Linked DNA regions of Homo sapiens: regions 1 and 2 are each linked to region 3. The links come from fine-mapping of genetic effects on gene expression. A gene starts in region 3. Each other region holds a variant in brackets. All regions are shown on one strand. Distances are from middle to middle. Region 1 overlaps DNM3 (dynamin 3). Region 2 overlaps DNM3 (dynamin 3). Region 3 holds the start of DNM3 (dynamin 3).

Region 1 (8,187 bases), 570 kb after region 3:
TGTATTCTCAGACTCCGAATTACAAAATTTTGCCCCACTTTTCCACTTAAAATGAAGTACTATAATAAAGCTACTTTCATATTTGTTTTATTCCACTCATCTTCCATTCTGAATAGATGCTGAGCTCTTTAAAGTCATGTAGCATGAAGCAGTCCACATATTAGATGCTCAATAAATAATCTATGCAATATATAACTGGAAGTCTTGACATAGATCATCTAGTCTGATTGTACAATTTGGCAACTGGAGCTAGAATCCACATTTTCTAACTTCTGATCCAGGACTCTTTCTATGTAAACATAGTATCTCAAATATAAGCTTCTGATAAATGCCTTAAAAGTGTAGCATCCTTGGCCTCGCTAGACCTACTCACCTTGATCTAGCCTAAACTCTAGCCTGGCTAAATATCTTGTTTAGGCACTTTTCAGTCATTTCTTCATTTGTCCATTATTCAACAAATACTTAACCACTGCTTTCTAATCACATTGTACCAAATGCTGAATACACATAATAAATGCAAAATATGTGGTTTCTTTTCTCAAGGAATTTTGAATCTATTTGGGGGACACTGGTAATAATCTAGTAAATAAATACATAATCACAAGTAGGGTTACGTGCTACGAGAGACACAAACATGAAGTCATAGGGGAAGGCAGAGGAAGTCAGGAAAACTATGGGATGGTCCAGAAGGACTGAGGAATAACAGTTAAGCCAAGAACAAAAGGATCAAGAGAAGTCAGTTTCATTCCTTTCTCTCTTGGCTACAAGCCTTGATCCAAGCTATCACATATTCATGAAACGATTTCCAATCCATCATGCCATGCTGTATCCTACTTCTCACTGAATTTGTAGTCTAAAATCAACTTTTTATTTAATGAAATCACCTAATTAATTCCATTATCAAAACTTCTGGTAGAATTTCCCTCCTTAAAGCTCAAATTCTGGCCAGTTCTCTCCTCCCACCAGCCAACTGGTTAATTGCTAAGAATACATTTCCATAGGTTACATGATTATTTGACAAACTCCCTGAGGGCAGGGGGCTTATTATTTGGTATTTATTCCAAATATCTACTAAAGAACTGAGCAGTTAGATACTTTAGAGTCACCAAGGATCTCAATCCTACATGTCACTTTAGCTACTTTTTTTTTTTTGCCATGGCCATGATTTACTCACAAATATCCTTGTATTTATAAGACCAATGAATATCACAAGCATTCATTAGTTATTTCTTGATTCTAGGAGGAACTTTCATTCATTCAGTTATCAAACATTCAGTGACTGAATGACAAGCAGTGAGCTAGATACCACAGTTACATGAAGATGATTAAGAGACAGCTCATTTCTCATCAGTGAAGATAACATATAAGCCTAATTAGAGTTCAGTGTGATGACTAATAATAGAGATTTGTTGAGATGCTATACAAACAACTGTATCAGGAGAGGGGAAGGCAGGTCAGGGAAGGCTTCACTGAAGTAAGTCTTAAATGATTAGTTAGTAGTCTCAGAAGATGACCAAAATGACATTGAGAATGTAATTGCATGTAACACCATGCTAAACACTGTATGAAACAAGTTAAGTGGGTGTGACCTGCGCCCTTCAGAAACTTCCTATCAAAGAAGAAAATTATGCAGATTCAAGATTCAGGACATAAGTTAAACATATATGGCCATTTTAAATGAAAATAAGGCTGGGTACCATGGCTCACACCTGTAATTCCAGTGCTTTGTACCTCCCCAAAGAAAGATTTCCTTTGAAGCCTCTTACACATTTTTCAAGTGCATGAGGTAAAAGGAATTCTACTAATATCTATGAGTTTGTGCCTAAATAGTTAATATTTTCACCATTAATCAACAATATCTCTCCTGCTTTGATTTTTCCTTGATCGTGTAATTTAATTTTATAGTTCCATGATTTTTCAACAACTATTTTTTTCAAAACTATTTTTCAAAACTATTTTTCATAATAGTTTTCTTAAATTTTTCTAACTTCACTTCTTCATACCTGAGAAAGGACATTCAATTTGATCAATATAGAGTTTCTAATACAGAAGAAAAATTTATGACTATAATTCCAGAAGGAGTCTTTCTGAAAAAATCAGTTGCAGAGTTTTATCAAAAAGAAACATTTCAATTTGTAGACTTTGTCAAATTTGGGGGGGTAAAAAAATGACTACCCAAGATACCATATATGAAGTCAAGTACACAAATACACTAAAAAAACTTATTAATATATTTAGGAAATAAATGTAGAAGCTTGAGGAATAAATAAGTAATAAATAATATTACTTGGTAATGTTGAGACTCTCAAATACAGTAATATTTCATTATCTAAAGTACGTTTGCTTAGTAAACTCAGCTACCAGAAACATCATTACCAACTAGAAAGTGAGTAATACTACTAATACCAATACTAAAGTCTTTAAGACCCAAAATAGGAACTAGAGCTCCTGCAATTTAAACAGGCACTCAACACTGAGCCTATTTACACTTGCTACAGAGAACTCTAAAGACTTGCTTTTCTGATTTTTAGTGCTCTGTAAATTACAAGCATAATATAGAACAAATTGGAGAAAGTCAAAAAGGCAATGAGAAGTGATAATAATATCCTGAAAGAAAAAGGAAAATTATATGTGAGAAATAAAAATTCAAAAGCCATCATTGTCTGAAACAGTATACCTTATTAGTTCCTGAGTTCATTCTATGTAATTATTATATTCTATTGGCTAAGATATGTGCAGTACGTTTCAGATGGCTTTCAAATAGTTTCATATTTCTTATTAGTATTGGAAGGAATGACTTCAGTTTTGAGAAAGATTTGCATATGAAAAAAGACGTAATTTTCATTAAAACTACTAGATAAATGAAAGGTGACAATGTTAAAATCATTACAGATCATAACCACTTCTGCTGGCCTGTATGTGCATGAGCATGTGTGTAATGGCTCTTTCTCAGTGTCCTTGGAACAATGTTCTGCTAGATATTCTACTTGTTTCTTTACCTTTCTCTTTTTCTCTTTCTAGCCGGAGACCACCCCCATCACCAACTCGTCCCACTATAATCCGCCCACTAGAATCCTCCCTGTTAGACTAAACGAAGTGTCTGGCATGGCAATTAATCACTAATGAATTATGCGAAAGCAACATATTTGATAACCGTTGCAGTAAATCATGAGTAGTCGCATGTGTGGACATCAGTAGGCAAGTAACCAGTTTTACTAATGCATTCATCGCTCATCTTCATTGCTCATGGTATGTCAAACCTTTGGGGTTTGACTCAGAAACTGCTAACCTTTTAGAGGCTTTATATGTTGTACTGACCAAGGTAGGTTTGTATAGCAGCCCTATACTTTGGGGATCATTTGCCTACCATG[G/A]CATATATTTGAAATTGCTTTGGACAAGTTTTCTAGGCTATCTACCAGGTAGCTCATTAAACGTAATTCTTCAGATATGAGATAGTGGGCTTAGACCTAAGCCATACATATTTCTTTTCCCACATTCTGTTTAGGATGACAGTAATTCTGTTGTCTACCATTAATGCTACTACCTACTCCATAATTGCCTATTTAGCTCCTCTTTTCTTCCTTTTTATTTCATAAGACTGCTAGGAAGTGATTTTTTAAAATTAGGACTCCTTAAGAATAAACTTTTCCAGAAGCACGAGGTAGTTTGCAAAGGAAAAGTCTGCACTGTTTGCTCTAAAGAGCTTCTCCTCATTCCAATGTGTTTTGCTTCATGCTAGAAGCATATGCAACAGTGAATAAAAGCTTCTTTTTTTGTTAATCAGTCAATAAATTTGGCTAATTAGTTTCAGAGTTCAAGGAAGAAGCAAAATATCACATCTCTAGAAGTGTTGGGAAAAATATAATTTCTTTCTTTACTTATATTCACCTCATGGTAGGTTATATTGAAGGCTGACATGGAGAATGTTTACTTTTCTATTTGGCATAGCTAACTACACTTTGATACTAACTCCAGTTTTACTATTATTATTTTGGTTGGAAAAAAAATTCACTCTTTACGTGCTAATTTGTAATCTTGTTTTGTAAGAATTTATCCTACCCTTGAAACAGGCTCAGTGTAACTGTATATCCATTCTAGGCTTTCTTAATAAATCTTGAGGCTATGGGATAATCACATTTAAAGAATGGTTCCTGAAATGAAGTCAGTAGAAATGGCATGGGATAAGAGCAGAGCTCACACTTTTACAGTTGCAGTATTTCAAAGTCCCTATCCAGGTCACTCCAGAAAAGGGTATTGAAACGTTGAAATCTAAAGCAAATTTGCAATTTCTTAAGATTTCTAAAATTTACCAGAACAGTTTAGCCTGGGGGTTAATAGTTAAGTCTTGAGGCTAAGTTTTGGACTACCAAGGACCAGATGATTCACATGTAGGAAACAGCCAGAAGCCAACTGGAATTTTGTGTGCTAACTGTTCCCAGACAGCAGAGCAAGTATTCACTGAGTAGGGGTGTCCCATGACACTATTTCATATTCTACAGAAGTAAATCAGGTTTCACCAACTGAAATGTCTCCCTTTGAAAGTAGCAAACATGATTTGTATGTTAACTTAACTTTAATTTCCTGTGTAGTTTACACCCAGAGCAGATACTCATAAAGTATAAAGTAAAAACTTTTAACCATTATTAAACAGAGAACTTGCCATGTTGAGTGCCATTGTATTGAACTTATTCTAAAGGCTTATGCTAACCCATTTATAATTGGTAAAAATCAGAAAATACAAGATTTACATAAAGGTCATTTCAACTTTTAAGGTTACCAGTGATTGTATAAAAACATCACAATCCTAAATCCTCTCGTATCTCACCCCAAACCCCAAACTGGGGGAAAAAAAGTTAACTCTTTGTGAATGGAACCAATGTGCAAGATACATACTGCATTTTTAAAATAGTGTCTCAGCTAAATGGAAAACTGTTAAGCAAACATCCATAGTAAAACAAATAATCTTCAGTGAGATCTTTTTATAAAACTTCTTGTTTTTAGGATTCCCTTTGCTTCTTCCTTTGAATTCTCTAAAATAGGCAGCTAACGGATTATATACTTCAGGGTTTGGCTTTGTGCTAAATGTGGTTTTGTGTTTTGCTGTATTTCAAAATTTTCCTTCTGTTAAAGGAAAATATTGTGAATAACCACTGGTGTGTTCTTAGATCAGCACAAACCATGTCAAAAAAAATTGGAGATTTTTTTCCAATTTTCCTTCCACTGATCTTAGGCAGTAATAAACAATGGCATTTGTCATCTTTGGCACTTGCTTTTAGATTATAGTCCCACAGTTGCACTGCCCCAATTGTCTACCTTTGTGGGTACATTTTTGTTCTTTACTCCTAAGTTATTTCTCATAGAACCCAGCCTACTCTAGAATTTCAGCAGTGACATTGGAGAATATTTTTAATTTGCTGCAGTACTATGTCATATTATTAGTATGAATCTCATTTCCCAAAGGGTTTGTATTCTGCTAAAAGGAGATGCCAATGTTGAATGAAGTCTGAAACTCTAGTATGTGCATAGTTTGACGTGCAGCATGCACACCAGGCCTTAAGATGGGAATGTAGCTTAATGATTTTCTGTTTCCCATACCATTTCTAATCTTTTGTGTAATTTTCTCTTAACTGATTGCTCTGATATTGTAAACACAATAGATGTAGCTCTATCATGTCTAGCATAATTTAAAAAATCAGTGTTTTTAGGATTTGGGAAAATAAACTGTAAATGTTTATTTGATAGGTAAATATAGTTTTATTGTCACATGCTAAATATTGCATGCATATTGACTAATTGGAATAACCATTTACTCAATTATGGACAGCTTATTGAAATAGTATTGATTTAGAAAAAGTATATTGCATTTCTAAAAAACATCTACCAAGGTTACTCGTCTGAATATTGCTTTTAGCCGTGTTTTATAACATAGACGAGCAGTAGGGTCTGTTTATTAGCAAATTTCCTATTTGTTCCAATACAAACTCACTTTATTCTAAAGTATATTAATGAAACCAGTTCCTGTGATGTAACTGTAAGCCTTCTCGACTTAGACTTAAAAAGTGGTCACATAGATTAATTTTGTGACTTTTTAGTATAGACTGTAGCCATAATTCTCAAATATGAAATGGGACCTAATACCAGTATGTGATAAATGTTGATGTTTTCTGTGTACAAACACATTTTCTATGCATGTGTCTCTGTGTATATGGCATATACCTAGTAAGTATGTTTCTGTAAGTATGTGTATTTTATGTCCATTTGAGTAGGTAGGTAGGTTTTAAAAATACTAGTTAAAATGCCACAAGCATGAGTGTGATTGTATGTGCACTGTGTGTATATATATAAATATATGTATATGTATGGTTGTAAATATCTATGTATACATGTACTTAGTATGTGTGGTATCAGGATATTTTTTAAACTGTGATAATACAACAGATAGCTTTGAATGATCTGCCATAACATGTGGTAACAATAGTTCATTTCTCATAACATATATGAGGTATACAAAATTTTCTAACTCCAGATTGTAGTCATTTTGAGAGGTACAAAGCTCATAATTACCATGACAACATGGTAATGTCCATAGACATTTGTATCTGAATCCACAAGAAGATCTGAATCTAAGAAGGAATTACCTTTGACAATATTTTTCGGTAAGAAGTAAAACCTCTGGAGACCTATCTTTAAGATCTCTAATTGGAATTATAAATTATTTTTGGATTGCTGAGCTGAATCTTAAAAAGCCAAGTTGATATACATAGTCATTTTTCCTCTATGGTAGAAGTAAAAAAAAAAAAAAAGGACATAGCAACATTAAAGTAGTGGATTTTTCTGAGTAAATTTGCTGAAAATATAAGAGAGAAGCTATCTAATACCTTGGAGGTAGGTCATCCACTTTTTCAGGTAAACATTTTTCATTTGGCAAATGGCATAATTATTTGAAAGTGACAGGAATCTCCTCAGAATGAAGAATAAAGCCTACTAGGTCTCTAACTGTTGAACTCATGAAAGAAGATAGTGTATGAGACTTAAGCCATGAGTTTTGTATCATTTCAATTAGAAGACTACTAGCTGTGAGCTCAGAGTTTAATGTAAATGAATCTAGATGATTTTGAAGAAATGATTATTCGTTCACCAGATCACTCATTGTACATTCTAAAAAGCTCAAATGAGTCTTCTAGATACTCTTACTCATCCTGTCTGGTTGCTATGTTTAAAATTATGTGGTGCTGTGTAGGTGAAACTTTAAGAATATTTTTGAAGCATATGTAATATATGCACTGCTATTTGTGTGTGTGTGTGTGTCTTTGTATATATGTAAGAATGTGTGTATGTGTGAGAGCAAGAGAGAGGAAACTCAAAGAGGAGTGTTTGTCTTAAGACCTGTTCATACTGGTATATTGGTGAGACTTCTCACTTCTGGTTGGAGGTTTCACATATGGCTCAACTCAAGTCATTAATCTCTTTTTAATTTTTACTCTTGAATTCCTTAAACTTCGCTCATTATGAAATGTTTTAAAATTATGACAAAAATTACTCTGTCTAACCACTTGCCTTGTCTGCTACCAGTTTGTTAAAAATTATTCCCCCCAACCAGTAATTCCACCAGTACTACTTGATTTGTGTTATATTTCCTATGTACATGTACAGCCTTTGTTTTGCTTGCTTGTCTATTTTTACTTTCCCTTTTTTGGGTCAAATTTTTCTTTTGCTTTGTTTGAAGAAGGAATATACAGAAGTAAAATCTTGTCTTCTCTGCTGATTCTTTAATTAATATGAGCCGGATACTTTCCACTGTCTTCTTGGCACTTTCAGGATTTCTTAATGCTGATATATGGACTCTTAGAATGGAATTTTTGAAGAAAAATCTCAAAGCCTGTATCGTTCTTGAAGGTCACATGTACCTATTGTGAAAATGTGAAGCTGTATTTCTGAAGCTGAAATAAATTATAACATTTGAAGGACCCCTTTTCCTCATTCTTGTATATATTTGAGTCATGTCTATGCCTTTCAGTAATACCTGAGACTTCTAAATATTTATAGCTCTTTTGATTAAATTGTCCCAGAGTTACCAAAGTAAAGAATGATAGCATTTTCCATTTCTGTCATTAATTTGGAGAAAGATGGGATTTTTAAAGGGAACAAATTGGATAAATCAAAGGCAGGAGAGTGGGAGACATTGTG
Region 2 (8,187 bases), 82 kb after region 3:
TATGGTCACAAGCATGAATTGAAACAGGTCTCAGCATGAAGATATAAAGTGACTAAACCTTTTTTTCTTCTTTCTTCTCTCTGTCCTTTCTTCTCTGCCTTTTTTCTTGAAGAAAATATTTTATTGACTTGTTAAATGGCATTATTCAGGCCATTCATCATTTTTCCTTGGCATTTTATACATCCTAAAATTTCACTCATGGTCCTCACGGCTCAAACAGATGCCCTCCAGCTCTTTTTATTTTTATATCCTGACTTAAATTTTTTTTATTATTATACTTTAAAGTTCTGGGATACATATGCAGAACATGCAGGTTTGTTACATAGGTATACACATGCCATGGTGGTTTGCTGCACCCATCAACCCGTCATCTACATTAGGTATTTCTCCTAATGCTGTCCCTCTCCTGGCCCCCCACCCTCTGACAGGCCCTGGTGTGTGATGTTCCCCTCCCTGTGTTCATGTGTTCTCATTGTTCAACTCCCACTTATGAGTGAGAACATGCGGTGTTTGGTTTTCTGTTCTTGTGTTAGTTTCCTGAGAATGATGGTTTCCAGCTTTATCCATGTCCCTGCAAAGGACATAAACTCATCCTTTTTTATGGCTGAACAGTATTCCATGGTGCCCTCCAGCTCTTTACTCTGGAGTTTTGCTTTTTTCCCTCCCTGCATTCATTTTGATTCTCAAATTAACCTGTTCCTTTTTGGTTAAAAATAAAACAAACAAAACAAAGTAGATGCTTTGTTTATTTTGATTAAATTTTAAATGATTGTTGAAGCCATCTAAACTAGCAGTTATTCTAATATAGCGCATGAAGAATATTAAAAGTGTATTTAGTTATATGTATTTAAATATATTCAAAACATCATTATAAAGAGAGTATTGTTCTTTCTCTTTTCTGAACTCCAATGTAGTTTATCTTCCCTTCTTTAATGGTTTTCATGACTATGTTTTGTTCCCATTAGGTTCCGAACTCCTGGTGTCTACCCAGCATGAGTCCATGCCCACAGCATCTCCCTAGCACTTCTTAATTTCTCAGTGAATTTTTTTTGATGAATAAATAATGGTATTTCAGTCGCATTTTCAAAAGCACATACAAATTTGTAATTTCACTATTTTCTATTGTAGTCATATACGTTGACATTCTAAATGAACTTTGGTCCTTGAAGTCAATGAGAAAAGTCATTAACTTAAGGTTGTTCAGTACTATTTCCTCTGTCAGAACACACAGTAGCACTTGCCAAATAAATTAGTTGTAGTAGGAGAAATTTGGCTTGATTTTATCTTTTTGACTCTCCATTCCAAACTATCAGTGCAGCTAAACACTTGGGTTTTGGAGCATTCTCACTGTCCTTTGCCTATTTTATAAGCTGCTGTTCATTGAAATCCCATCTGTGTTGAAGCTCTGTTCTGCCAAATTTCCTACAAAACTCATAGCACGCCACATGCCATTATTGCCCACTGAATTGTTGAGTAACATATCCTGACTTGAGGCCAGTGGTTTTCAAACCTTGGTGAGCATCAGAAACATCTGGGAGCTTGTTAAGAGTACAAATGCTGCATGCCTTCCCCTGAATATGATGAATCTGTAGCTTCAGGATGAGTCCTGGGTGTCTGTGGTTATAATACTTTCTGATGGGCCTGGAACCACATTTTGAGAAAAACTGCCACTGAGTGAAAAGTTTATTTTGAATGGAATTCTGTGATGATTCCTCTAAAAGTTGTGAGACATTCTAAATGTGTTTAAAAACTGTGCTATAGGTATGTTTTTGAATTCTTCGACATTGCAGAATCAGCAATAATTTATGTGGCATTGCAGATGTAATATTATGTAGTACTATCTTTGCTGCAGTTTTATTAGCTTAGTGTTTATTAATATGTCATTTAAAATATGATCTTTATCAAAACGTCCATTTATCAGGAATAAGAACAAATGGAATGAGAACAAACAAAACTCAATTTGCAATGTTTGTTTTCTGCTGTTAATTTCTATAGACAAAATACTTATTTCTACTTGATCCCACATTTTATGTGTCCTTTTTTTTAGACAAGAGTCTCACTCTGTTGCACAGGCTGGAGTGCAGTGGTGCGACATTGGCTCACTGCAACTCTGCCTCCCAGGCTCAAGCGATCCTCCCACCTCAGCCTTCTGGGTAGCTGGGACTAGAGGCCCACGCCACCACGTCTGGCTGGCTAGTTTTTGTAGGGTTTTTTTTTTTCTTTTTTTTTTTGTAGCGCTGGGTTTTTGCTATGTTGTCCAGGCTGGTCTTGAACTCCTGGACTCAAGCAATTCACCAGCCTCAGCCTCCCATAGTGCTGGGATTACAGGTGTGGAACACTGTGCCCGGCCTTGTTTCCTTTTATTGGAGAAAAGTGTCAGTATATTTAGAGGATACAATCTAATGTGCCTTTAGTAGTGGTATATGATGGTGCTAATATTGATCTTGAGGCCAAAGAGCGTACTGGGTTTTTTAATTATCAAAAAGAGTTTAAGAATTAATTTCAGTATCACATATTTTCTTTAATGCTGATTCTCTGAAAATCAAAATTCATTGATAATACACAGAAACTAAGGGCAAACTTTTATCAGTTTCAGCTAGATGAATGAATGACATATTCCAGTGAAGTCATTATGATAATGTACATGGATTTCTGTGCAATATAAGGCCCTCCTCCTCCTTTTTTTTAAATTTGAAAATGCTTCTTTTATTAAGATGGGCCTATCATTGTTTGGATAAGCGATACATTGAAAGGTTGGGAATTAGGAGAATTGCTGTGGAACTTGGTTTATGAATGTACAGGTGATAAGAATTCCTTCATGCCTTAATCTGTATTTCTTACTTTTTTTAGGGACTTTCTCCCTCGAGGGTCGGGCATTGTAACAAGACGACCTCTTGTGCTGCAGCTTGTTACTTCTAAAGCAGGTAATGAATGAAGATGTTTACCGCATGGATGGGCACATCCTGTGGCCCCTTTTGCCTTCATAGGTGTGGGATTGTACAAATAGAAACGTTTTTGTGATCGCCCCACTGTGGGCAGCTGCCCACATTTCTCTCCAGAATGCTGCCTTCTTCATTGCTCTTTTCATTCCTTTGATTACATTAAAGGGGATATTTTCATAGATTTTTTTAAAATACCTACTTAAAAAAATGTTTTATTGCTCATTGTAATCCATCTATATAATTTTACAGTACAGCACAACCACTAATACTCCTTTGGTATGCTTTGTGTGTGTGTGTGTGTGTGTGTGTGTGTGTGCGTATGTGTGCATGCACATGCACTTGGGGATTAACTCATAAAATTCAACAACCATATAATATCTGTATGGATGTGTATGTGCGTATCTATATTTACACTGTGCTATGCTTCCTTCTCTCTCTTACATCATGATAATTTGATAGGTAAATGATGCTTTGTTTTTATTTTCATTTTATTTCAGCAACTGATGATGTTGAATTTTTTTTTCATGTTTATTTGCCATTTGTATTTCTTCTCTCGTGAATTGGCCATTTTTCTTTTTCCCCATTTCTTTTTGGGGATTTTACTAGTTTTCCTATCAATTTCTTTGAATGCTTAAGACTGAAGCACCTCATAAAAATCATCTATCATAAATTGCAAATATTTTTAATAGCTTGTTAAAGATACAGTTTACATACCATACAACTTGACCAATAGAAGTTAACAGTTGAATAGATTTTAGTCTTTTCACAGATATGTGCAACCATCTCCACAATCAGCTTTAGAACTGTTTGATCACTCCCAAAAGAAAGCCTGTATGTTTCTGCTGTCACCTCTTTTCATAACACCTTTCCCCACCACTCCAGCCTAGGCACTACTAACCTATGTTCTGTCTCTATGGATTTCCCTATTCTGGACATGTCATATGAATAGAATCATTTAATATGTGGTCTTTTGTAATAGGCTTTTCTTGCTTGGCATAATCTTTTCAAGGTTCATCCATGTCGTAGCATGTATTAGAACTTCATTTCTTTTTATGGCCTAATAATATTCCATTGTCTGGATAGATCACATTTTGTTTGTCCATTCGTTAACTGAGGAGCATTTGAGTTGTTTCCACCCTTTGGTTATTATGAATGATGTTGCTATAAACATTCATGTACATGTTTCTGTGTGGACATGTGTTTTCATTTCTCTTAGAAATATACCTGAGTATAATTGCTGGGCCATGTAGTAACTCTCTGTTTAATTGTTTAAGGAACTGACAGACTGTTTTCAAAGCAGCTGCCCCATTTTACATTCCTACCGGCAGTGTATGAGGGTTACAGTTTTTCTATATCCTTGCTAACCCTTGTGGGTAAGAAGTGATATCTCACTGTGGTTTTGACTTGCGTTTTCCTAATGACTAA[A/G]GATACTGAGCATCTTTTCATGTGCTTAATGATCATTTGTATATATTATTTAGATAAATGTGTATTCATTTCCTTTGCCTAGTTTTAAATTTGGTTATTTGCCTTTGTATTACTGAATTGTAACAGATATATATTAAATACAAGTCCCATATCAGATATTTGATTTGCATTTTTTTTTTCTATTTTATAGGCCCTTTTCATTTTCTTGGCAGTGTCCTTTGAAGCACAAGATTTTTTATTTTGGTGAAGTCCAATTTATCTACTTTTTTCTTTCATTTCTCGTTATTTTTGTATATATCTAAGAATCCTTTGCCAAAACCAAGGTTATAAAACTTTATTCTATGTTTTCTTCTAGGAGATTTATAGCTTTGATCTTCCACTTAGGTCTTTGATCCATTTTTTAAAATTACTAATTTTTAAATTTTAAATTTCATTTTAGATTTGGGGATAGGTACAGGTTTGTTATATTGCATAATGTGTAATGCTGAGGTTTGGGTTTCTAGTGAAACTATCACCCAAATAGTAAACGCAGTCCCCAATAGGTAGAATTTCAACCTTCACCCCTCTTCCACTCTTCCCCCTTTTGGAGTTCTTTGCATCTGTTTTTCCCATCTTTATGTCCATGTTTACCCACTGTTTAGTTCACACTTGTAAGTGTGAATGTGTGGTATTTTATTTCCTATTTCTGTTATTTCTCTTAGAATAATGGCCTCCAGCTCAGTCCATGTTGCTGTGAAGGACATGATTTCATTCTTTTTTATGGCTGCATAGTATTCTATGGTGTATGTGTCCCCTGTTTTCTTTATCCAGTCAACTGTTGGTGGGCTTAGGTTGATTCCATGATTTTGCTGTTGTGAATAGTGCTGCAGTAAACATACAAGTATAGGTATCTTTTTGAAATAATAATTTCTTTTCCTTTGGGTAGCTACCCAGTAGTGGGATTGCTGGGTCAAATGGTAGTTCTATTTTTAGTCCTTTGAGAATTCTCTATACTGTTTTCCATAGGGGTTAAACTAATTTACATTCCCACCAATAGTTTATAAGTGTTCCCTTTTCTCTGCAGCCCTGCCATCATGGGTTATTTTTGACTTTTTAACAATAGCTGTATCAGTCTATTTTCACACTGCTATGAAGAACTGCCCAAGACTGGGTATTTTATAAAAGAAAGAGGTTTCATTGACTCACAGTTCAGCATGGCTGGGGAGGTCTCAGGAAACTTACAATCATGGTGGAAGGCAAAGGGGAAGCAAGGCACCTTCTTCACAAGGTGGCAGGAAGGAGAAGAGCCAAGCAAAGGGGAGGAGCCCCTTAAAACTATCAGATCTCATGAGAACTCACTATCATGAGAACAGCATGGGGGAAACTGCCCCCCATTAATTACCTCCACCTGGTCTCTCCCTTGACATGTGGGGATTGTGAAGATTATGGGGATTACAATTCAAGATGAGATTTGGGTGGGGACACAAAGCCTAAACATATCAATAGCCATTCTGACTGGTATGAGATGATATCTTATTGTAGTTTTGATCCGTATTTCTCTGATGATTAATGATGTTGAGCATTGTTTTCTTATGTTTGTTGGCTGCTTTTATGTATTCTTTTGAGAATTGTCTGTTCCTGTCCTTTGCCCACTTTTTTTTTTCCCCCTTTTTGAGATGGAGTCTCGCTCTTCTTGCCTAGGCTGGAGTGCAGTGGCGGGATCTCGGCTCGCTGCAACCTCTGCCTCCTGGGTTCAAGTGATTCTCTTGCCTCAGCCTCCTGAGTAGCTGGGATTACAGGTGCCCACCACCACGCCCGGCTAATTTTTTGTATTTTTAGTAGAGACGGGGTTTCACCATGTTGGCCAGGCTGGTCTTGAACTCCTGACCTCAGGTGATTCACCCACCTCGGTCTCCCAAAGTGTTGGGATTACAGGCATGAGCCACCATGCCCGGCCCTTTGCCCACTTTTTTTAAATTCTTTTTATTTTATTTTTATTTTTGAGACAGAGTCTTGCTCTGTCACCCAGGCTGGAGTGCAGTGGTGCGATCTCAGCTCACTGCAAGCTCCGCCTCTTGGGTTCATGCCATTCTCCTGCCTCAGCCTCCCGAGTAGCTGGGATTGCAGGTACCCACCACCACACCTGGCTAATTTTTTTTTGTATTTTTAGTAGAGATGGGGTTTCATCATGTTAGCCAGGATGGTCTCAATCTCCTGACCTCGTGATCTGCCTGCCTTGGCCTCCCAAAGTGCTGGGATTACAGGTGTGAGCCACCGTGCCTGGCCTTTGCCCACTTTTTAATGGGGTTATTTGTTTTTTTCTTGTTGATTTGTTTAAAGTTCTTATAGATTCTGGATATTAGTCCTTTATTGGATGCATAGTTTGCAAAAATTTTCTCTCATCCTGTAGATCGTCTGTTTACTCTGTTGGTAGTTTCTTTTGCAGTGCATAATGTCTTTAGTTTAGTTAAGTCCCGTTTGTCTATTTCTGTTTTTGTTGCATTGCTTTTGGGGTCTTAGTGAGAAGTCCTTTTCCTAGGCTGATGTCTGGAGAAGTTTTTCCTAGGTTTTCTTCTAGAATTTTTATAGTTTGAGGACTTACATTTAAGTCTTTAATCCATCATGAGTTAATTTTTGTATATGGTGAGAGATAGGGGTCCAGTTATATTCTTCTGCATATGGTTAGGCAGTTTTCCCAACACCATTTATTGAGTAGGATGTTCTTTCCTCATTGTTTTTGTTGACTTTGTGGAAGACGTGTTGGTTGAAAATATGTGGCTTTACTTCTGAGTTCTCTGTTCTTTTACATTGATCTATGTGTCTATTTTCATACAAGTACCATGCTGTTTTGGTTACTATAGCCTTGTATAGTTTAGTATAGAGTAGTTTGAAGTTGGGTAATGTGATGCCTCTGGCTTTGTTCTTTTTGCTTAGGATTGCTTTGGCTATTTGGGCTCTCTTCTGGTTCCCTATTAATTTTAGTATTGTTTTTTCTAATTCTGTGAAAGATGATGTTGGTAATTTGATAGGAATTGCATAGAATCTGTAGATTGCTTTGGGCAGTATAGTCATTTTAACCATATTGATTCTTCCAATCCATGAGCATGGGATGTTTTTCCATTTGTTTGTGCTTTGATCCATTTTGAGTTAATAATTTTATGCACTAAGTGTCAAACTTTATTTTCTGCATGTGGATATCCACTAGTCCCAGCACAATTTGTTGAAAAGACTATTCTTTCCTCACTGTAGGATCTTGGCCCCTTTGTCAAAAATCTGTTGACCAGAGAAATACAGGTTTATTTTGGGACTCTCAGTTCTTTTCGACTGATATTTATGTCTATCCTTGGGCCAATAGCATACTCTCTTAATTACCCTTGCTTTGTGGTAAGTTTCAAATTGAGAATTGCAAGTCCTTCTACTTTATTTTTTTTCAGGATTGTTTTGGCTATCCTGGGTCTCTTGAAGTTCAATATGAATTTCAGAATGAGCTTGTTTTATCCCGGGAATGTAAGATTGGTTTAACATCTGAAAATCATATCAGTGGAATGAAAAAAAATCACAGAATTACCTCAATAGATTCAGAAAAAGTATTTGACAAAATCTAACATGCATTCATGATAAAACTCTTAGTAAATAAAGGGGAAGGAACTTCCTCAACCTGGTAAAGGGCTTATATGAAAACCACATAGCTACCATCATACTTAATGGTGACAGACTGGATGCTTTCTGTCTAAAATCAGTAATAATACAAGGATGTCTGCTCTTGTCACTCTTATTCAACATTGTACGGTAGGTTCTAACCAGGACAGCTGGGGAAAGAAAGAAATAAAAGGCATCTACC
Region 3 (8,187 bases):
TACTGCTGATAGGGACATACCAGAGACTGGGTAATTTATAAAGAAAAAGAGGTTTAATGAACTCACAGTTCCACGTGGGTAAGGAGGCCTCACAATCATGGCAGAAGGCAAAAGCCATGTCTTACATGGCAGCCAACAAGAGAGAAATGAGAACCAAATGAAAGAGGTTTCCCCTTATAAAACCATCATATCTTGTGAGTCTTATTCACTACCACGAGAGCAGTATGGGGGAAACCATCCCCATGATTCAATTATCTCCCACTGTGTCTCTCCCACAACATACGGGAATTATGGGAGCTACAATTCAAGATTAGATTTGGGTGGGAACACAGCCATACCATATCACCCTTAAAGGTGAAAGTTTGTTTTTGTCAAAATTTTCCCTCTGCTTTTTCCCTTTAGGTTTTCTTTTGCTATTTCTTTTATCCATATTAGCTTATAAGAAAAGGTCTACATCACTGAAAGACCTTGAGTTGAGTGTTTTTGTGTGTGTTAGATTTCTCTTAATTCCGTGTCATCACAGTATTGATTCTAGAAATGGAAAGTAAAGAAGGAAAGCAATTGGCAAGAGTGTTTAGGATGGTTTCTTAAAGTAGGTGGGTGAAACTAATTTGAACTAAATTCTGGAGCATAGAGATGACAGGCATTGCTTCAGTGCACGTGAACTTTACATTTGTATAATGGCTATACATTTTTTGTCTAATGCATGGTAGCATTGTCTTCTACATTAGAATGCAAAATACTTAGGGCAAGGGCTAGTTCTCCTGATCCTTTGTACCTTACAGCATGTAGCAGAGTGCAGGATGTACTTATCAAGGCCCAGCTAAGCTTTCCATGACTCTCTCCTGACAGAGTTGTTACTCCTCGGGTTTCATCACGTTTCTTTAAGCAAACTCTATGTCTTGGTCAGCATGGGCTGCTGTAACAAAATACCAAGGACTGGGTAGCTTAAACAACAGATATTTATTTCTCATAGTTCTGGAAGCTGAGATGTTTAAGATCAAGGTACTCATTGATTCTGTTCCTGATGAGGACTCTCCTGCCTTGTAGATGGCCACCTTCCTGCTGTGTCCTCACATGATGAGGAGGGCAGTGGAGGGGGAAGAGAGAGACAGAGAGATGGGAGGGGTGGGGGGAGCCAGCCAGCATGAGAGCTCTCTGATGTCTCCTCTTACAAGGCCACTAATCCTATTGAATCAGGGTTTCCTCCTTATGACTTCATTTAACCTTAATTGCTAATATAGTTTGGCTGTGTCCTCACTCAAAATCTCATCTTGAATTGTAATCCCCATAATCCCCATGTGTCAAGGGTGGGACCAGGTGGAGGTGATTCAATCATGGAGGTGGTTTACTGCATGCTGTTCTCGTGATAGTGAGTGAGTTCTCATGAGATCTGATGGTTTTATAAGTGTCTGGCATTTCCCCTGCTTCCACTCACTCAGTCCTGCCACCCCATGAAAAGGTACCTTTCACCATGATTGTAAGCTTCCTGAGGAATGTGGAACTGTGAGTCTATTAAACTTCTTTCCTTTATAAATTACGCGGTCTCAGGTATTTCTTCATAGCGTTGTGAGAACGGACTAATACAATTACTTTCTCCAAATATAGCCACACTGGGGTTCAGGGTATCAACATATGAATTTGGGGGAGGCACAGTTCAGCCTATTGTACCCTGGAACATATTATGTGTGTTGTAACAATTTGTTTATGTCTGCTGCCAGTGGACTGTGGTCTTCTCACGTGCTATGCACTGTGCCGGACATTGAGAATCACAAAGATGGATCCTGCCCTCAAGGAGTTGTATTAATTTTCTATTGCTACTGTAACAAGTTACCACATACTTAGTGTTTTCAAACAACACAGATTTATTATCTTACAGTGCCGTGCATTAGAAGTCTGATGCAGGGTTGGTCATGGTGGCTCAAGCCTGTAATTCCAGCACTTTGGGAGGCCGAGGCAGATGGATCACTTGAGGTCAGGAGTTTGAGATCAGCCTGGCCAACATGGTGAAACCCCGTTTCTACTAAAAATACGAAACAAAAAAAAAATAGCTAGATGTGGTGGTGCACGCCTGTAGTCCCAGCTACTTGGGAGTCGGAGGTGAGAGAATTGCTTGAACCCAGGAGGCGGAGGTTGCAGTGAGCTGAGATTGTGCCATTGCACTCCAGCCTGGACGACAAAGCGAGACTGCATCTCAAAAAAAAAAAAAAAATTTTTTTTGGAGGCTCTGAGGGAGAATGTGTTTCCTGCCTTTTCCACTTTCTAGAGGCTGCCTGCATTTCTTGGCTCATGGTCCCCTTTCTCCATGCATCTCGGGGACCCTTCCCCAGTTATATCTCCCTCTGATGCAGATTGGAAATGTTCTCTGCTCTTAAGAATTCATGTGAGTAGAGTGCATCCACTTAGATAATCTAGAATAATCTTCCCATCCCAAGGTCCTTAATTATATCTACAAAGGCCCATTTGCCACTTCAGGAAACATTCACAGGTTCCAGGGATTAAAATGTGGACATCTTTGGGAAGGGCATTATAGTGAAAGAGAGGGACATGTAAATTAGTGACTTAATGCAATATGCCAAGGGCAAGAATGAAAATCTATTCAGGGTACATATATATATGTATATATGTGTATATATGAAAAGCATAGAGGAAAACGGTTGTTTGAGAAATGATGGTTGTAACTGAGGCACTGGCAGCAAGGATGGACAGAAAATGGCTTCTAGGAAGGTAGAATGGGTATTATTTGGGTACCAATTTGGTGTAGGGGATGAAGGAGAGAGAGGGAAAAATGAAGTGAGAATGACTTCCAGATTCTGGATTGGGATTGGGCAGGCTTGTCCCTGAGATAGGGAGCACACTATCTCTAGTGTGAGAATGTATTTATAGGATTCTTTGACTGCAAGTAAAAGAAATATGAGTTGAATTAGGTTAGGCAAAGAGGAGAATTTATTATAAGTTTATTGGCGGGGAGGTTGTACAAGGAACTGAGGACAGGATTACAGTTGGACATCAGACATGAACAAGATTGAGGATACAGGTACTATCCGGATCTTCCCTCTTCTTTCCCTGTGCTCCTCTCCTTGTGTCTTTTCACTTTTCTCTTTCTCTGAAGATGAGCACTTCCCTTCTACTGGTGAAATCTTACTAACCATAGTTGCCAATGTTATTCCTCACTTATAGTTCAGTCACTCAGACAAAGGCCAATCTCTCTCTCAATTGCATACTCCTGGGAAAAGGCTTTGATTGGTAAAGCTCAAGTCAGGTGCCCAATCTGGTGCACACAGCTATGGCCAGGGCTCAGTTTTTCTTCATGCCTTTCTATCTTCATGACTGCTCTGGCTACAACCATGCATTGGATGGAGTGTTTCTTAGAAAAGGTTTCCTGGGCAGACATTCTAATAGAGATCCACTTCAGTGGAGATGCATTCAGTTTTATTTGTCTTTTTCTGCTGCTTTAAAAAAAAGTTGAGATGTAATGTACAGTAAAATGCACATCACTTAAAAGTTTAGTTTGAGGAGTTTTGACAAATGTATGCCCACATCCCAGTCAAGACATGGGACATTTCCATCACTCCAGAAAGTTTCCTCATGCCTCCTACAGTCAATCTCCACTCCTCAAAGACAACCACAGTTCCGATTTCTATTACCATAGAATAGCTTTGCTGGTTGTAGAACTTCACATACATGAAATCAAACCAATATGGTCTTTGGCCTTTTTCATTCTACATAATGTATCTGAGATTGTTGCTATATCAAAAGTCTTTTTTGTGGCAGAGATTATTTCACTATATATATATACCACGTTTGTTTATTCATTCACCTGTTGATAGACATTTGGGTTGTTTTCAGGTTTTTTGACATTATGAACATTTTAATATGTCTTTTTAGAGTTAGAAGGAACTGTACATTAAATGCTGAGATTACAAAAGATGACTTCAGTTTTGAATAAATTGAGTCTGTAGTACTTGTAGGACACTCAGGTAGTATTCTGGGCTCCTCTTGGAGTACAGTCTAAGTTGCAGAAGAGAGACAGGGTCTAGCAATGTAAATTTCTGTAGTCGCCAGCCTTGATTCAGAGTTAAAGCTATGGGAAAGTCCTCAGGCAGAGGACAAACATTAGACAAGAAAATGCCCATATATGAAACCCTGCGAAGCATCAGTATTTGAGGAGCAGACTAAAAAGGAACCGTCTGTGGAGGCTAAGAGAAGCATGGCCATTTATCTTTGTGTCCCGATCATCAGGCACAGGACCCCACACACAGTCACTTCTCAATGTGCTAAATTTCACAGAATGCGTCCAGGGTACCTGGTTCTGGATAGATCCGGTAGAAGGAGATAGACCGGGAGGGCAAATGGCATGAGGAGTCTCACAGGCCAGAGTGATTAAAGGGGTGTATCGGGGCGGTAAACCCTACAGACTCTACCTGTGCTTATGCGGGGCTGGGGAGGACGAGTCATTACAGATGAAGAATTAAGTAAGGTCAGACCACTCAGGGCCTTAGATGGATGTCACATTGAAGAATTTAGACTCCAACAGGCCTGCCACCCTGGGAGGAGTCATCGCGGATTCTGGAGAAGGGCGTGACAGAGGAGATTTCCTTTCGGGAAGTGTAGTCTGGCAGCGGTGCCCCGGTGGTGGCGGCGGCGGTGCTGCTGTTGCTGGTGATCGTGTGGTGGTGTTAGCGGCGATAGTGCTTTCCACTGGGCTTTGGCTTGGTAGCCGCTGAAAGAGAACAACGCTGCCGCTGCTGCTGATTTCATGCCATTTCCTGACCCGGCGCTGTAACTTGGCCTCTGAGCCTTGGCCACAGAACGCAGAGGCCGTGGCATCTGGCCGCAGCTGGGCTGCAGTGCGTGCGCGCCTGGCCTGGTGGTCCGATGGGAAGCCCGGGGCGGGGCAGCCGCGGGGCGGGGGCGGGGCGTCGCGGAGATAGGCCACGCCCCTGCCCGCCCGCGCAGGCGCGCTGCGGGTCGTTAGCTGTCAGAGCCAAGCGGCGGGCTGGCGGCGGGCTCCGACGTCTGCGCCAGGACCTGGCTGGCTGAGCCCGGCGCAGCAGCAGCAGCCAGGGCAGCGCGGCCCCTACTCCCTGTCAGGTCGTAGAGGCGAGCAGGGACCAGCTGGTCGCCGGCCCCTCGGGCAAGATGGGGAACCGGGAGATGGAGGAGCTGATCCCGCTGGTGAACCGTCTGCAGGACGCGTTTTCGGCGCTGGGACAGAGCTGCCTGCTGGAGCTGCCGCAGATCGCCGTGGTGGGCGGCCAGAGCGCCGGCAAGAGCTCGGTGCTCGAGAACTTCGTGGGCAGGTAAGCGCGCAGGGCGCGGAGTAAGGATGCGGCAGTGGGGCGACCCCGCTGCGGGCCGTTGGAACGTGGACGGGCAGCGGGAGCCAGAGGGTGGATGGACCAGGCGCTGCGGTGGAATGGGGGGCAGAGTGGAATGGGGGGCAGAGTGGCGGTGTCCGTGGGGCGGGCGGGGTCCTCCAGCTCTGGGCATCCTCCGTCCCCTGCCACCCCCCGCCTGGTGGCCCTCCTGCCTGCCTTTCATCGTGCGATACAAAGCCATTTCCTCCCTGTCCTCCAGTCGGGGAGTCGGGGGAGGGGTCCGCCCCGGGCTCGACCCCCACCCCCTCGGTGCGCGCCAGCCCCGGGCAGCCTCCCTGCGTAGCGCGCCGAAAGCTTCCCAGTGCCCCTCTCCTGTTTTCCCAGCTCAACACCCCCCTCCTTTTCCTGTCGCCCTCCGTGAGGCTCCCTGTGAGGCTGTGGGGCTTTATCCCCCGAGCCCCCTCCCTTAGGTGGAGATGCTTTCCTTCTCGCCAGGGTTCTCGTTCCTCTCAGCTGTCTACTGTTGCCTGCCTCTAGCTGGGGAGGCGGGGTGCGAGGAGAAAGACGTCGTTTGTTGTGGTGAAGCTTTATCCAGAGACGCTTCCCCACCATTCTCCTCCCGGAGAGTCGAAGAATAAAAGGTGGTGTGTTTGCGTGTGCACCTATTCACAGCTTCAGGCAATTGTGAGAGAGCCCGAGGCACAGACTTGGCAGGGGGTGGACGTGGACTTATGTTGTCCAGGTGCCATGTCATTCCTGCATCATCTCGGAACTGACCAGCATCTTTCTCGCACTCTCTCTGCGCCCCCTCCCCCAGCATCATCTTCCGTTCTCTAAGCTCCTATTTGTCTTGCTAGCCTTCAAGACAACATTCTGAATCTAAATTGTAGCTGTGGTTTTCCTCATGACTCTTAATACAGAAACAGCTAAGGAATTAATTTTCGAATTAGGAATCAGCATTTCTTCCACTGAGCAATTCATGAGGGATTAAGTTACCTTAATGGCCTTGCCTGAAGAGTGCAGACATTTGCTAAGAAAAGCCCATTTAAAAGCATTATGAAAACTGAAATCTGTTTCCTAGTAATAGAAAACCAGGTAGAAATGTACAGTATCCAAGAAAAAATGCTGGCGAGATTGTACTTTATTCTTTTTATTTGGCTCATTCGTGACTTGGGATGCAGAAGGTTCCTGTTTCTGTTCCTTTTTTCTTTTTTTGTTAGTGCTTGGTGATGTGTAGAATTTAGAGCTGAATATTCCCACATTTCCTTTGGAAATGTTAGTGTTCATAAAGTACATATTCCTTTCTCTCAAATGATATTCCATCTCTCAGATGATATTTTTTTTCCTGTATGAACTAGAAAGATAAGAAGCCTAACAAAGTAAAATTGCTGACAATTGGCTTGTATCCTTGAGTAATTCACTTAATCACTACACCTCATTTTTATATTTTTTTTGATTAATGAACAAAGTGAAGGTAAAGCATTTTGCCTACGTCATCTTAGACTTTTGGTGAAGTGATGGATTTCAAACATATAACAGTTACTTTCTTTGATTTGTTGCCAATGAAATTTACGAGATATAAAGTGGCATCCAAAGAGTGAGTTTTGGTAACATATTTTTGGCTTTCCAAAGCCAGGGCATTTTTGTCATGACACCTTAAGAGTTATTTAACTATTTTTGTTTTTTAAACAAATACTTAAAGATTAAAACTGTAAGTATTTCAAATGAAATTACCATATTTTTATGCATCTCCCATATATTTACTTGGATGAGCCTATATTGTATGCAAGTGCATTGTTTGTGGTCAGAGCTTTTGAACTTAATGTCAGTTGTATGCACATACCACAATTCTACATTCTAGGTTTTGAAATTCTAACATTCTTCCTAATGTTATAATAAAATTGTACACATCTCCCCACACTAGCTATGTTCTTTTGGAATAATTTGAAAAAAGAAATGTAGAAGAGTAAAATATTTAAGTTTGAATATTTTTCAAGATGGAATAAAAAATAGGGACAAGTATAAAAATCAGAGCACGTACCAGAATGCATTAGTAATTTGTTGTACTTTAAAAAGTTTTACCACTAATTGACTGTTAGAACGCCAAATCAAAGAAAAGGATGACCATAGAGGAAAAAGGTCATTTAATTCATATGTAAAGTCTTAATTATATGTAGAGATAACACCTGCCTAGCAGAGCTTACATATTAAGGAGAAAATTTAATTAGGAAGGTCATTTGACTTTAATAAAGATTTCGGTCATTGAATTATTGAGGAATCTAATTTCTAATTATAAACCAACCTTAGGGAAAATGGAGTTTTCTATTTTGATAAGTTATTCAGCCTAGGTGGAAAAAATTGTATCCATTTTCTACTGTAACATCTTAGCATTTTCTTGTCATTATCCAGGAATTTTGCAATAAAAACAGTTTCTTTCCTAAGGATGCAACTTTCCTCTTTTACACGAAACAGTTTTCATTTTAAGACTCGATCTAATGTGCAGTTATTGAATGCAGCCATAAAAACCAAGGGTCATCACTTGTGTAAATTCATTGTGTTTGCTCTTGACTCAAGCTTCTTCTCTACAAAATAATGATGCATTTTCTCAACAATCCTCATTTAGTGGACTAACTGTATCTTCTCTCAGTTTGTTTATATTGAGTTTTTTTGGACACCAATGAATGAATTCGGATGTGAATATGTTTACTTCATTTAGCGGTTGCTGTAAAAGCTGATTTTTGGGTGACAGGTTTGAGATTGTTATGAATAAAATGAGTCATGAATGAACCACTTGTTTGTGATTTTCTTGCTGAAGTGATGAACTTGCATATTAATGTGATATAGCATGAGTAACCAGATTGTTCTT

Evidence for each region. PIP is the estimated chance that this variant, and not a neighbour inherited with it, causes the effect. A credible set is the group of variants that fine-mapping cannot tell apart.
Region 1: its variant is the best candidate, but not a certain one, in a credible set for the expression of DNM3 in whole blood (INTERVAL, PIP 0.75).
Region 2: its variant is the best candidate, but not a certain one, in a credible set for the expression of DNM3 in whole blood (TOPMed, PIP 0.79).

Annotation. Positions count from the first base shown.
Region 1 is chr1:172,404,751-172,412,937 of GRCh38, forward strand. It overlaps DNM3 (dynamin 3), which reads left to right. Exons shown (of 21, transcript NM_015569.5): 21 at 3,022-7,967. The coding sequence ends at 3,091. All of the region lies in intron 1 of LOC102724528 (a long non-coding RNA gene), which reads right to left. Among named protein-coding and RNA genes, the nearest start is that of C1orf105, 12 kb to the right of the region's middle. The variant G/A (reference allele first, on the strand shown) is at 3,372.
Region 2 is chr1:171,918,898-171,927,084 of GRCh38, forward strand. It overlaps DNM3 (dynamin 3), which reads left to right. Exons shown (of 21, transcript NM_015569.5): 2 at 2,851-2,924. Among named protein-coding and RNA genes, the nearest start is that of DNM3-IT1, 59 kb to the left of the region's middle. The variant A/G (reference allele first, on the strand shown) is at 4,368.
Region 3 is chr1:171,836,515-171,844,701 of GRCh38, forward strand. It overlaps DNM3 (dynamin 3), which reads left to right and starts at 4,984. Exons shown (of 21, transcript NM_015569.5): 1 at 4,984-5,303. The coding sequence starts at 5,143. RefSeq lists a silencer at 4,799-5,028 and an enhancer at 5,229-5,408.